Linked DNA regions of Homo sapiens. The protein of the gene in region 1 interacts with the protein of each later gene in a pairwise test. Each region holds a gene or a part of one and is shown in the gene's direction. Other genes may lie near its edges.

Region 1 (3,500 bases):
CTGATGATCTGTGTGGACGGGGGGCCCTCCACAGATGGCTTGGACTGGTTCTGCTACCATGCCTCTTCCCACGCCATCTTCCCGGCCACCTTCTGTCAGAAGAATGACATTGAGCTCACACCGCCAAAAGGTAAGACTAGAGAGGCCACCACCTGCTGTCCTTGCCATCAGAAGGGGCAGGGTGTCCAGGCGCGGTGGCTCCCGCCTGTAATCCTAGCACTTTGGGAGGCCGAGGCAGGTGGATGACCTGAGGTCAGGAGTTTGAGACCAGCCTGGCCAACATGACAAAACCTCGTCTCTACTAAAAATACAAAAATTAGCCAGGCATGGTGACAGGTGCCTATAATCCCAGCCACTCGGGAGTCTGAGGCAGGAGAATTGCTTGAACCCAGGAGGTGGAGGTTACAGTGAGCCGAGATCATGCCATTGCACTCCAGCCTGGGCGACAGAGCAAGACTCTGTCTTCAAAACAAAACAGAAGGGGCAGGGTGTGGCCACAAGCCCAGATTCCTGGTCAAGTCAGGCCCCAGAAGTGTAGCATTTCAGGGTGTATGGGAAAGGTGACAGAGCCCACCACCAGCCCTTAACTGCTGGGCTGACCCTACCCCATGGCCAGTGTATGGTTGATGAACAGAGCTCCCACTTATCCCATTGGTCAGTGAACAACCTATACAACAGGACTGTGGTGCTAGAGCAGGTACTACCCTGAGGGGATGAGAAGAAGGCTGCTGGGGAGACTCCATGCTGGGTCCTGACCAAGCTGCAGAGCTTCTTCAGCCATGTGTCCTTTCCTCCTGCCCACTTCCTGCTTCCCCCTCTCCCTCTGCATCTGAGCTTTCTGCTCCTCCAGGTTATGAGGCACAGACTTTCAACTGGGAGAACTACTTGGAGAAGACCAAGTCGAAAGCCGCTCCATCGAGACTCTTTAACATGGTGAGGAGACTGAAGTGGAGCAAGGGGCCTGCGGTGGCCTCAGGACAGGCCCTGCCTGCTGCTGTCAGTGGTGGCAGTTCCTACTCTTTCTCTCGAATCTCTACTGCTGACATCAGCCACTTTCAGGGGGAAGTCCCCAGCTATGGCCTGGGCACTCCAGTCCCTCTTCCATGGAGGGCGGTACTGGGAGAGGTGCAGTGGGTTATTGTCTAGAGGAAGCTGCCCCAGCAGCCATTCCAGTCCCCGCCCCTCCCTGCCAGTTCTTCAAGTGCCTCCGGGCCGGGGCAAGCCTGCTGGGGTAGGGAGCTGACTGGCTTGGCCACTGCCTCCTTTTTCTGCCCCAGGATTGCCCAAACCATGGCTTCAAGGTGGGCATGAAGCTGGAGGCCGTGGACCTGATGGAGCCCCGGCTCATCTGTGTGGCCACGGTGAAACGAGTGGTGCATCGGCTCCTCAGCATCCACTTTGACGGCTGGGACAGCGAGTACGACCAGTGGGTGGACTGCGAGTCCCCAGACATCTACCCCGTCGGCTGGTGTGAGCTCACCGGCTACCAGCTCCAGCCTCCTGTGGCCGCAGGTGTGGGCTCTCGTGGCCCTAAGAGGCTCTGACTTTCTTTCCTCTTCTTTTTTCCTTCTTCCCCCGCCCCTGTGCCCATCTCCGTTCTTTGGCATGAGGTGGAGATGTCTCATGGACCACTTTAAGTAGAGAGTGAGCCCCGTCACCCAGCCCCTGCTCCTGACTTCTCTGTCTCCCTTTCCCTCTGGCCTGCAGAGCTCCTTCCTTCATCTTGCCCACTCTGTCATATGTTCGTGCCCTTGTGCACCCAGGTAAACTACCCAGGTCCCTCTGAGCAGCCCTGGTAACAAGGGTGGGAAGAAGGGACAGCTGTTCTCCGGCCCCTCCTCCAGCCCCGCCCTCTCCTCATTGCCCAGGTTTGGCTTCCTGTCTTGGGGTGTCTCGTGTGGGAGGGTGGATGGGGTCTCGGGATGCGCCTGTGCCCTGTGTCCTCCCAGGGACCCTCTTCTCATCTCTTTCACCCTTGTCTTTCAACAACAGAACCGGCCACACCGCTGAAGGCCAAAGAGGCCACAAAGAAGAAAAAGAAACAGTTTGGGAAGAAAAGTAAGTGCTGCACCGGTGCAGCCAGGCTGGTGTGGGCCTGGGAGCAGTGGGCCTGCGTCCCTGGGAGCAGGCGGGGGTCAGCCCCCAGGCACTGGTTCCCAGGTGCTGTCCTACTGACGTAGCTCTCTTCGTGTTCCTGTCCTGTCTCTTTCCCCTTGCCCTTTGGCCTACGGGCCTTTCACCCTGTCTCTGGGGACCCAGACCATAAATAGGGAGTGTTCAGTCTCTGGCCATGGTCAGGGTGCTGAGGAAAAGAGGTAAGAGATTGAGGTTGGGGGATCCCATCCCTGATGCCCCATGTTCAGAAAAAAACAGCCTGGCCTGGGCAAGCCGCAGCTGCTAGGTTCTAAAGGAAAAGCCACAGGAAGAAATAGAAGCTGTCTCTCCAAGGCTGTCATTCTTACCTCGAGACCTCTTTGAGGGTGGGAGAGGGTGGGAGCAAAGGCAGGCAGCTGAGTGGCAGGACTCCACCTGGCTCTCAGGCCGTGGGTGTCGTTTCCCTTGGTGGGGCCTCACTCTACAGATTCTGAGCCCAGCTTGGGTTCCACTTGAGGGGCAGAGCGGGAGCGGGCAAAGCCATCCTTCAGAGCCGCAGGCCTATGACAGCGAGGTGGGCTCCACAGTGTGGTACCATGTGGGGAAGAGGATGTTCTGAAACAGAAACAAGGTCCCTTGGGCAGGGTTAAGATTGAGTGAGGCGGCCAGGCGCGGTGGCTCACACCTGTAATCCCATCACTTTGGGAGGCCGAGGTGGGCGGATCATGAGGTCAGAAGTTCCAAGACCAGCCTGACCAACATGGCGAAACCCCGTCTCTACTAAAAATACAAAAATTAGCCAGGTGTGGTGGCAGGCGCCTGTAATCCCAGCTACTTGGGAGGCTGAGGCAGGAGAATCACTTGAACCTGGGGGCCGGAGGTGGCAGTGAGCCCAGATCGCTCCACTTCACTCCAGCCTGGGCGGAAGAGGGAAACTCCATCGCACAAAAAAAAAAAAAAAATTGAGTGAGGGTGTGGCATTTATCCAGCAGGCAGAGGCTCTGTACCATTCAAACGGTAGGACCGGGAATGGTGCATGTTGTGGGAAGAAATCAACAATCAAAAACGGGGGCTGAGTGTGATGGTTCACACCTGTGATCCCAGCACTTTGAGAGGCTGAGGTGGGAGGATCTCTTGAGCCCAAGAGTTTGAGACCAGCCTGGGCAACATAGCGAGACCCCTAATTTAAAAAAAATTTTTAATTAGCTGGGTATGGTGGCACAGGCCTGTAGTCCCAGCTACTCAGGAGGCTAAGGTAGGAGGATCACCTGAGCCTGGGAGGTCAAGGCTGCAGTGAACTGTGATCACCCCACTGTACTCAAACCTGGGTGACAGAGTGAGACCCTCTTCAAAAAATCTTTTTATTTAAAAAAAGATTTTAAAAAGCAGTTACAACCACGACTGCC
Region 2 (3,500 bases), on another chromosome or scaffold:
CCACAGCCTAGCGGCCCTGCCTCTGCTATCTCTTGGGATCTACATGGTCCTAGCTGTATCACTGGATTTGAACCCCTTGTTGATATGTTCTTTATAAATAATAGGATAATGCAGCCTGCTTACTGGGCACTTCCTTTTTCTAAACTACAAGTTTGGGCAGGGCGTGCTGGCTCAAGCCTGTAATCCCAACACTTTGGGAGGCCAAGGCAGGTGGATTGCTGGAGCCCAGGAGTTTTGCATTTTTCTTTTTTTTTTTTTTTTTTTTTGAGACAAGGTCTCACTCTGTTGCCTAGGCTGGAGTGCAGTGTTGCATTCACAGCTCACTGCAGCCTTGACCTCCCAGGCTCAAGTGATCCTCCTGCCTTAGCCTCCCAAGTAGCTAGAACTACAGGCGTGTGCCATGATGCCCAGCCAATTTTTTTTTTTTAATTTATTTTTAGCAGAGATGAGGTCTTACTATGTTGCCCAAGCTGGTCTCGAACTCCTGAGCTCAAACGATCTTCCCATCTTGGCCTCCCAAAGTGCTAGGATTATAGGCATGAGCCACCATGCCCAGCCCCAACCACTTAAAAATTGAAGCTGCTTCCCGTTTGCCATTGGTACTTTGTACACCTCATCATATTCTTCTTCCCCTTCATCCCATAGAATGCACAATTCATCTTTAAAGACTTCAAGTTAACTGAGTCTGTGAAGCCTAATCTGATGGCATAAAATTAAAATAATTTGATCCTCTTTTGTTAAATCATTCTGCACCTTGTCTGCATTACTCTAATAACAGCTTTGGGCATTCATTCATTTAACGAATATTTATTGCTCCAAGATTGAGATGTTTGAGATAAAACTCAGCCATGCAGATAGCCAGAGGCCACTGGCTATGAGAATAAAAGAGCCAAAAGAACAAGGAGCTGAAACTAGGTGAGAGCCCCAGAGCAGTGAGTTAGGAGGAAGAGGACCAGGAGCTGAGTGGTGGGCACTCCAACATGAAGAGGTCCAGGGCAAGGGGAGGGCCTGGCAGCAAGGAAGACTAAAAGAAGTGACAAGGAGTAAAATGCTTGTGTTTGTTTACATGTTTATCTCCTTTTTAGGTTGTTCACTTTGGGAGCAGGCATGGTGTTTCACTCATCTCATGTCCCCAAAGCTCAGCTAGTTCACTTGCAAAATAGGAGCTCAGTTGTGTTTTGGGTTTTTATTTTTGTGGGGCAATATATATATATTTTTTATATATATTATATATATTTATATATATTATATATTTTATATATTATGTATTATAACCCCAAAGGATATGTGTTTCCAATATGATTTCCCTTCCATAATCTGTAACATAAAATAAGGTATACAATGTTTATGGTTAACTTTACCGGTGGGCTTTGTAAAACGTTATCCCCCTATCCCTTTTCCGTATCTCCCAATTCTGATCATGTTGCCATTACAGGGGCCAGTGTCATTCAAAGATGTGGCTGTGGATTTCACCCAGGAGGAGTGGCAGCAGCTGGACCCTGATGAGAAGATAACTTACAGGGATGTGATGTTGGAGAACTATAGCCATCTAGTTTCTGTGGGTGAGAATAGCTTGCTTTCTGAATGCTCTCAGTTGAATGGGGTTTTATCCTTGAGTTTGAAGAAATAAGTGATGACACCATTTAATTCCTTGTGGGCACTAGCTGGAGTGTTTATATTATTATTCATTGAAAGGTTCTAACTTTGATAAGGTAAAAAATGGAGCACTTCTGTTATGCAGCTTATGAGGTGGCAACATCTTGTACTTCAGAGATTCTGAAGCCAAGCAGCTTCCCCAAGTCCTCCTTCTTTTCCCATTAACAGGATATGATACCACCAAGCCAAACGTCATCATTAAGTTGGAGCAGGGAGAGGAGCCGTGGATAATGGGAGGTGAATTTCCATGTCAACATAGTCCAGGTAAGTTAGTAGCGTATCAAAGGTTAAAAAATGCTCATCCCAGACCTTTGGGAGAGACTAAAGAGTTGTTTATATGTATTCAGTACCCTCAGTAACACCTCCCAACCCCCAAATATCACTTTCCTTCCCGCACACATACATGAACTCTTTTGTTGATTTTACATTTGATTTACATTGGTAGGGATTTTTTCATTCTAACCGGTACTGGAGACCCATTCACTTCCTCTTTCTCCAGCATTATTGGTAACTTATTTACTCCCTTGCCATTACAGAATTGTTTTGGGTTTGTTTGTTTGTTTGTTTGTTTGTTTTGGAGACAGAATCTTGTTCTGTCACCCAAGCTGGTGTGCAGTGGTATGATCTCAGCTCACTGCAACCACCACCTCACAGGTTCAAGCGATTCTCCTTCCTCAGCCTCCCAAGTAGCTGGGATTACAGGCACATGCCACCACGCCTGGCTAATTTTTATATTTTTAGTAGACACAGGGTTTCACCATGTTGACCACACTGGTCTTGAACTCCTGGCCTCAAGTGATCTGCCCACCTCAGCCTCCCAAAGTGCTGAGATTACAGTCCTGAGGCTCCCGGCCTTACAGAATTGTTTTGTTTTGGGGCATTCAGAAGTCTGACATAAAAATCAACTTGAGACTTTTATGTTCATTCCTTTTATCTTCCATTTTCTTTCCTTCCTTGCTTTAAAAATACCTTGGACTTATTTTCTGCCCTCGATTTTATTTACTTCTTTAGGCATTCAGATACCAAAACCTCATCCTCCACCTATGCTTGTGAACTGAGTCACAGCTTGTGGTGTCTGTTATTTCCCAAAGTCCATGCTCAGTTGATGTGACGCTATAGCACTCCCTCAGCCTTCGTCTCTTTCCCCACTGCTCATGACCCGTCTGTGTGTTCATTTCCCCTTCCCCATAACTGGAATCATGCTCTGTCCATAGTAGACATTCAGGAAGTGTGAATTTCATAAGTGAATGTCGGTTCCTTTTCTTGCCTTTTCAGGACTGTCCCCCTAGGACCTGTTTTCCACTTTTTTGGTTTTCTTTGTATCCCTTAAAAGAGTTTATCTAATCTCACCTTCTAAGACCTTTTTTCCTGTGTATTTTTGCAGCTTGCCTCCAAATTGATACGTCTGACACTTTTAACCTGGAGTCTAGTTGAATATTTTACTTGACAACATAGCAGTTACCAGGGAGATAGTTCACTTCCTTCTTTCTCAGAATGTCTGATGATAAACTGTGCACATTCCAAAATCATGAATTCTGTCTACCTTCCTCACCTCCCAGTATTTGATTGTGCTAGTCTTGTCTCCATGGTTTGTGTTCTTTGTCTTCTGTGAAATGCCTGGCAGAGCGTCAGCACATTCTGTTTCTTTCGACATTCGTGTTCAGTATTCTCCCATACCTGGATTTCAGTGGATCCATCTTCCATTCAAATGATCATTGTCCTTTTCCTTCATCTGCATTTTACTTGCCCACATAATACATATTTTCCCTCCCTTTCTTCCTCTCCTCCCTCTCTCCCTTCCTTCATTCCTTCCTTCCATTTTGAGACAGAGTCTCACTCTTGTC
Region 3 (3,500 bases), on another chromosome or scaffold:
AGCCAGGATGGGTTATTTGGGGCTGGAGGCCATGTGGCTTTGGAGTCCCACTCAAAGGCCCCTCGGGTTTGGGGAAGAGAGGGATTCTGAGACAGGTTGGAATGACCTGGGAGAACCAGGAAGCTGGAAGTTGTGTTTTGTGAATAAGGAGCAAGAGGGAACTCTCTTGTTCTCTCCCAATGCTGAAATGCTTTATTCATCTTTCTGGAGGTGGAATTTCTTGTAAGTGAGGTATACTGTATGTTTCTTTTATGATTTCATCCTGCAGCTTCACCTTATTTCTGACATTTATCAAATATAAATCATGGTTTTAAACCAACTTTGTACCCTTTAAAAGAGAGTCCCTCACTTCTGCCTGTACCTAAGAATCATGTGAGATTTTCTTAAAAAACTATATAAATCCCCAGGCTCTACTCCAGACCTATTTGAATTAGAATGTCCAGGGATGGGTTTAGGACATCAGTGTGTTTAAAGACTTCATTGCTTTAGGGTTTCATTTTTAGGATGCGTTTTGAGATGTCTTGAATTCATAGTGAAAGGAGAAGAGTAGTGGAAAAATGCAGATAGCATTCCAGGATTTTTTTTTCCTCCTAGAATTTTAGAGGTGGTATATTAAAACATTTTATAGCCCTAGATTTTGAATAGAGGATTAAGGCTGAAATTTTAATTTGTGAGTTCTCTTTAATGGCCTGTAGAAATTTGCCCTCACCTAAGCTCTAATGTCTGTTCTTGATGAATGAATGCCAGGTTTGAATACACTCTAGTATGCCTTTTATTAATATATATTTGAAGCAATATACTCAAGGGAGTAACTATTAAACGTACTGTGAATGTATTTTATATTTAGCAGGGGACCTCTCTCACCACAGGAAGTTGAATATTGGATCTTAATTGGAGAATCAAGTAGAAAACATCCTGCCATTCACTGTAAAAAGTATGTTAACTTCCCTTTATTTTCTTTAATTGAGGTAACATTTAGATACAGTGAAATGCACAGATCTTAGTTGTATATAATTAGTTTGATAAATGAATGCACCTGTATAATCACCACCCAAACAGGATATGGTACACATTCATTGCCATGGAAAATACTCTCACTCTCTACTCCTATCAATCTCCATAGAAAGCCCCTCTTCTGATTTCTGTCACTACAGATTTGCTTTGCCTCTTCTTGAATTCCATGTAAAGAGAATCAGACAATATTATTTTTGCATCAATATCTTAAGTAACATTTTTGAGATTCCTCCATTGTGTCATGTGTATCAAGAGTTTATTATTTTTTTATTGCTGAGTAGTATTCTGTTGCATAAGCATGCTGCAATTTGTTTTCCATTTTCCTGTTGATGGGCATTTGGATTGCTTTGAGGTTTGGTCTCTTGTCAATGAAGCTCTTGGGAACATTCATGTACAAGCCTTGAAACAAATTATATAAAAATTTTATTAAAATATAATTCACATACCATAAAGTTCACTGCACCCACCATGCGCGGTGGCTCATGCCTGTAATCCCAGCACTTTGGGAGGCTGAGGTGGGAGGATCGCTTGAGCCCAGGAGTTCAAGGCCAACCTGGGCAACATAGTGAGACCCTGTCTCTACAAAAAAATTAAAAAATGAGGCAAGAGGATTGCTTGAGCCTAGGAGATTGAGGCTGTAATAAGCTGTGATCGTATCGCTGCACTCTCATCTGGGTGACAGAACGAGATCCTGCCTCAAAAAAAGGGAAAAAAGTGTACAATTCCATAGATTTTATTATAGTTACAGGGTTCTGCACCAATCACCACTATATAATTGCAGAACATTTTCATCACTCCAGAAAGAAACCCCATACCCCTTGGCAGTCACTCCGTATTCCCTGAGCCCTGGCAACCACTGATCTACCTTCTGTCTCTAGGGATTTGCCTATTCTTGTTTGTTTGTTTGTTTGGTTTTTTTAAGACAGAGTCTCTTTCTGTCACTTAGGTGGGAGTGCAGTGGTGTGATGTCAGCTCACTGAACCTTCATCTCCCAGGTTCAAGAGATTCTCCTGCCGTAGCCTCCTGAGTAGTTGGGCTTACAGGCGCCCACTATCACGCCCAGCTAATTTTTGTGTTTTTCGTAGAGACGGGGTTTCGCCATGTTGGCCAGGCTGGTCTCAAACTACTGATATCAAGTGATCCACCCTCCTCAGCCTCCCAAAGTGTTGGGATTACAGGCGTGAGCCACCACGCCTGGCTGGGATTTGCCTGTTCTTGACATTTCGTATAAATGGTGTCATACAGTATGTAGCATTTTGTACCTGGCTTCTTTCACTTAATACAGTGTTTTCAATGTCATCCATGTTTTAGCATGGATTAGAACTTCATTCCTTTATATGGCCAAATCATTTCCTTTGTATGGAGAAGTCACTTTTGTTGTACAAGTCTTTTAGAGGACATATGTTTTGTTCTCCTGGAAGACACCTAGGACTAGAATTGCTGATTCATAGTATAGATGTATATTTAAGAAACTGTGAGAAAATTCTCCAAAGTGGTTGTAAACCTTCTGATGAACAGAAGTTCTGATTCTAATTAATCTTAATTAAATTTATTTTATCAATTTTCTTCTTTTATATGTTTTGTGCCTCTATAAGAAATTTTTGCCTACCCCACGACCTCAAAGATGCTTTCCTGTTTTTTTCTAGAAGCTTTATAGATTTTATGTTTAGATTTCTGATCCCTTTCTATTATTGTTTTGAGACAGGGTCTCTCTCTATCACCCAGGCCAGAGAACAGCGGTGTGATCATGGCTCACTAAAGCCTCGACCTCCTGGGTTCAAGTGATCCTCCCATCTCAGTCTCCTGAGTAGCTGAGACCACAGATGTGTGCCCCCATGCCCTACTAATTTTAAAACTTTTTTGTAGAGACAGAGTCTTGCTGTGTTGTCCAGGCTGGTTTCAAACTCCTGGACTCAAGTGATCTTACTTCCTTGGCCTCCCAAAGGGCCGGGATTACAGATGTGAGCCACCATGCCTGGCCTTAATTACCTTTTGTGTGTGGTATGTGGTAGAGCTCAACTTTGATTTTTTCCCCCAGTGTTTATCTAGTTATTCTAGCACTATTTGTTTACAAAGATTTTCCTTTCCGTATTTAACTTCTTTGGTGCCTCTGCTGAAAACTGTATGTGTGGGCTGTTTCTGGACCCTGTCCTACTAATCTGTCTGTCCTTTTACCGATGCCACACTCTCAATTGTTGTTTATACTAAATCCTGAAATTAGATAGCACGAATTCTCTGAATTTTTCTTTTTCTTAAAGATTGTTTTGGCTCTTCTAGGACCTTGGCTTTTCCATAAAAATTTTAGAATTTGTCCTTTTAATTAGAGTTTGTAAAGATTTTGATGAGGATAGAATCTATAGAATTCATAATTTTGGCTGGGCGCGGTGGCTCATGCTTGTAATCCCAGCGCTTAGGTGGGAGGATCACTTCAGCTCAGGAGTTCGAGACCAGCCTTGGCACTATGGCGAAACCCCATCTCTACTAAA
Region 4 (3,500 bases), on another chromosome or scaffold:
GGTGTTCATTCGTCTTAAAGGCATCCCCTCCTTCCTCCACTGCTTGGGCCATGTATTTCAGGGCTACAGTCCAGCCCTGACCTTGATCTTTAATTCTGATAATGGAGCTGACAGAAACTACAGTGGACATGCATGGGCCTTCGCCCCAGAAAGGCTCAGGTTTCAGCCTCTACCTTTCTGATCCCCTCAAGCCCATTCCCAGGAGAATGTCTAAGTAGACACACAGGTGAGTGTCTAAGTCAGGGATGGGCCAAACGTGACTCCGAGGGCCAAATCGGACCCACCACCTATTTTCACAAATGAAGTTTTCTTGGAACGAAGCTTCTATTGTCTGGTTTTTGTTTTTATTAAACTTGAAGGGACAGGGTATATTATTTTTACTTTTGTGAAGGGAGAGAGCTACTACGGGCTTTAAATAGGTTCCTCCCACCAAACAAACAAACAAACAAACAAACAAACAAACAAGCTCTAGGAGATGGGGCAGTTCAGCTGGAAGTCTGCTCTGAGTTTGCTTCAGTGACTGAGACAGACGGTGTCCCCTTCCATGACCATTTCACAGGCACTATTTGAAGTCAACTCCTGTGACTGACTTGGCCACTAGACAAACAGAACCAAGGGATTCTTGTCTCCCAGTGTGAGGGGTTGTAGGAACAGTTTTAAAGGGGCGGCCCAGTGGGCTGGAACTAGACCTCTTGTTTCAGAGGCCTCTGGGACCTCTGTCCTGCTCTAACTCCACAGCTGTGTGACCTAGGATTACTGGAGTAATCTCTCTGAGCCTCATGTGCCTCATGTCAAGTGGGGTCAGAAGTGCTGCCTTCCACACCCCCAGGTGGGAGTGTGGGATGAGGCAACATGTGTGGGAAGGTGTTTCATGAACCTTCCAGTGCTTCAGGGGCCAGTTCTTATATTATGCTTTCCTCCTTGGCATCTCAGGGCCACCTGTATCTATGTCACACCCGACAGGCTAGGATGAGGTTTTGAAAACAGATACGTAGTGAATGATTTTTTCATAGTTTTGCCTCATGAAAAGTACAGATACTACTCCACCTACAGTGGGGTTATGTCCCAATACACCCATCATAAGTTGAAAATATCAGAAGTCAAGAAGGCGTTTAATACACCAGGCAGTGGTGGAGTGGGAGCTGTGGTTCACTGCCGCTGCCTGGCGTCACGAGAGTGTGTCATATTTTCTATTGCTAGCCTAGGAAAAGACCCATATTCAAAATTTGATGTTTGGTTTATAATGAATGCATATGGCTTTTGTACCATCATAAAGTAGAAAAATCAATAAGTCCAAACATCCTAAGTTGGGGACTGTCTGTACTTGGAAAGAACACGAACTTTGGAGTCAGACGAGTCTAGGTTTGAATCCAGCCCCACCCACCACTTGCTGGTTGTATGATCTTGGGCAAGTCACAACCTTTCTGAGCCTCAGTTTCCTCATTGGTGGAATGAGGGAAGGCGTTAGTGTACCAGTTTGGGTCACCCATGAAGCAGACACCAAGATGGCATTAGATGTGCAAGGGGTTTCTTGAAGATACCTGTGAAGAGAAAAGAGGAGGGAATGTCTTCAGACTGCAATGCAGGTCTGACGTTTGTGAAGGGAGAGAGGGAAGGAAGGAGATTAAGTAGGAGGAGTCTCAGACTCCATGTGGCTCCAAGAAAGTCTTGGTCAGGTCTGCTGGGAATCCCAGAGCAAAGATTGTCCACTGGAGGAAGCTGCATAACAAATGACCCCACATCTCGGTGCCTTAAAACAACAATGTTTTTATGTCTCATGATTTTATGGGTCAGGAATTAGGGTAGGGCTCAGGCAGGAGATTCTTCTGCTCCACGTGGTGTTGATTAGGGTCATCCAGTGGCATTCAGCAGGTGGCTGATATGGCTTGGAGGGTCCAGGATGGCTTTGCTGGTTTGGCGGGGATAGCTGGAAGGCTGGACTCAACTGGACCTCCTTCCATGTAGTCTTAGGGTCTCCTCATGGTCCCTCCAGCATAATAGCCTGACTTAGAGCTCAGGGTTCCAAAACAAATGCTCCATGAGGCAGAAGTAGCTGCAGTCTTTTAATGCTTCCACTGTGTTCTCTTGGTTGAGGCAGTCACATATCTTCCCAGTTTCCATGAAAGGAAAGCATCAAAGAATATGTGGCCATCTGTAATTCCACAGTGAATTACAGACTCATGAATGCAATAATGCATATTCACGGAGTAGGTACCCAGCAAATAGGAGCTGGCATTCTTGATGTTTCTCATCACTATTATTACTGCTGCTACTACCACCTGCCCTGCAGATGTATTCTGTGTCCTAAGGATGCCAGAGTGAGGCTGGCTTAAACGTGAGGCTTTTTATAATGCACCCGCCCTAATTTCTCAACTTCCTGTGAAGCCCTCATCAGCCCTCGCCTCCCTACCCAAGGCTTAGGAATGCTTGTCTTTCTGCAGGTGTGGTGGACCTCAGTTTTGAGGCCGAGAGTCCTCTGGCGCCCCCCACAGAGCTCCTGGAGAGACTGCCCAGCTATGACTGGCTTCTTCAAGGGGGCAGTAAGTTCCAAGAGGGCTTGGTTCTTTGGGCTTCTACCTAGGGCTCACGCTGGTTGGTGGGATGTCTCGGGAAAAAGGTGGTGCTGAGATAGCTCCCCTTTCCCTGGGGGGGCCCTGGGAAGCCCCTCATCTTGGGCAGGTGGAAAGAGGAAGCAATGGGGCATAGGCCTTCTGTCTATGAACAGTCCATGACTGCGACAGGTCCCACTAAGACCTAGATGGTGCTGGTCTTGGAGTCCCCATTCTTTTTGCATTAAATGCATCACTGTTTCTTCATCTGTTCTTTCTCACATTCAATCAGTCTTTCCTTCTTCCACCACACAAATATTTGTTCCTTTGGCCTGGGCTGTCCAGCCCCTGACTCTTCCCTTCTCCAGGAGGACAGATATTCTTCCCACCTTTGGAGGCCCCAGGGAGGCCCCAGGAGCAAAGGTCCTGGCCCTCGTTCCTGGAACACAGGTGAGTTTCAGGTTGTACTCTGTGACTGTGTGCATTTCCTATGTCACTATTGCCCCTTGAGGATCTCAGCCCTGGCAGTGCATCAGGATCCCTGGAGGGGGCCGTCTGCACCCCAGACCTACTGCACCAGATCCTCCAGGGATGGGGCTTAGGGATTTACATTTTACCAAGCTCTTCAGGTGGTTTGGCAACAAAGCCAGCGTTGAAAACCATAGTCTAGATCAGGGTTGCAAACTCCTGTCTGTGGGCCAAATCCAGTCCACTGCACATTTCTGGAGTAAAGTTTTATTGGAACACAGTTACACTCAATTGGCTGTGTATTGTCTCTGGCAGCTTTTACTCCAGAGCTGAGTAATTGAGACAGAGACTATGTGGGCTACGAAACCTCAAATATCACTATGTGGCCCTTTGCAGAAGTTTGCTGACCCTGGTCTAGATCCGCGGAAAGGCCCATATCCACCTTGTTTTGAGAGGACTCAGGGCCGAGCTCAGGGTTTCCAG

The links.
Region 2: the proteins of L3MBTL2 (region 1) and RBAK interact in binary tests that used the Homo sapiens proteins (3 or more experiments, as listed by UniProt).
Region 3: the proteins of L3MBTL2 (region 1) and BIVM interact in binary tests that used the Homo sapiens proteins (3 or more experiments, as listed by UniProt).
Region 4: the proteins of L3MBTL2 (region 1) and SSUH2 interact in binary tests that used the Homo sapiens proteins (3 or more experiments, as listed by UniProt).

What each region holds. Positions count from the first base shown.
Region 1 is NC_000022.11:41,225,812-41,229,311, forward strand, and holds part of L3MBTL2 (lethal(3)malignant brain tumor-like protein 2), read left to right. Parts: coding exon 1-130; intron 131-850; coding exon 851-933; intron 934-1,277; coding exon 1,278-1,512; intron 1,513-1,707; coding exon of another isoform or gene 1,708-1,763; intron 1,764-1,992; coding exon 1,993-2,058; intron 2,059-3,500. UniProt on the Homo sapiens protein: Putative Polycomb group (PcG) protein. PcG proteins maintain the transcriptionally repressive state of genes, probably via a modification of chromatin, rendering it heritably changed in its expressibility.
Region 2 is NC_000007.14:5,055,860-5,059,359, forward strand, and holds part of RBAK (RB-associated KRAB zinc finger protein), read left to right. Parts: intron 1-1,435; coding exon 1,436-1,562; intron 1,563-1,824; coding exon 1,825-1,920; intron 1,921-3,500. Other genes in the region: RBAK-RBAKDN readthrough, read left to right, coding at 1,436-1,562, 1,825-1,920. UniProt on the Homo sapiens protein: May repress E2F-dependent transcription. May promote AR-dependent transcription.
Region 3 is NC_000013.11:102,833,619-102,837,118, forward strand, and holds part of BIVM (basic immunoglobulin-like variable motif-containing protein), read left to right. Parts: intron 1-847; coding exon 848-934; intron 935-3,500. Other genes in the region: BIVM-ERCC5 protein, read left to right, coding at 848-934.
Region 4 is NC_000003.12:8,634,799-8,638,298, reverse strand, and holds part of SSUH2 (protein SSUH2 homolog), read left to right. Parts: intron 1-2,441; coding exon 2,442-2,540; intron 2,541-2,894; coding exon of another isoform or gene 2,895-2,917; coding exon 2,918-2,999; intron 3,000-3,500. UniProt on the Homo sapiens protein: Plays a role in odontogenesis.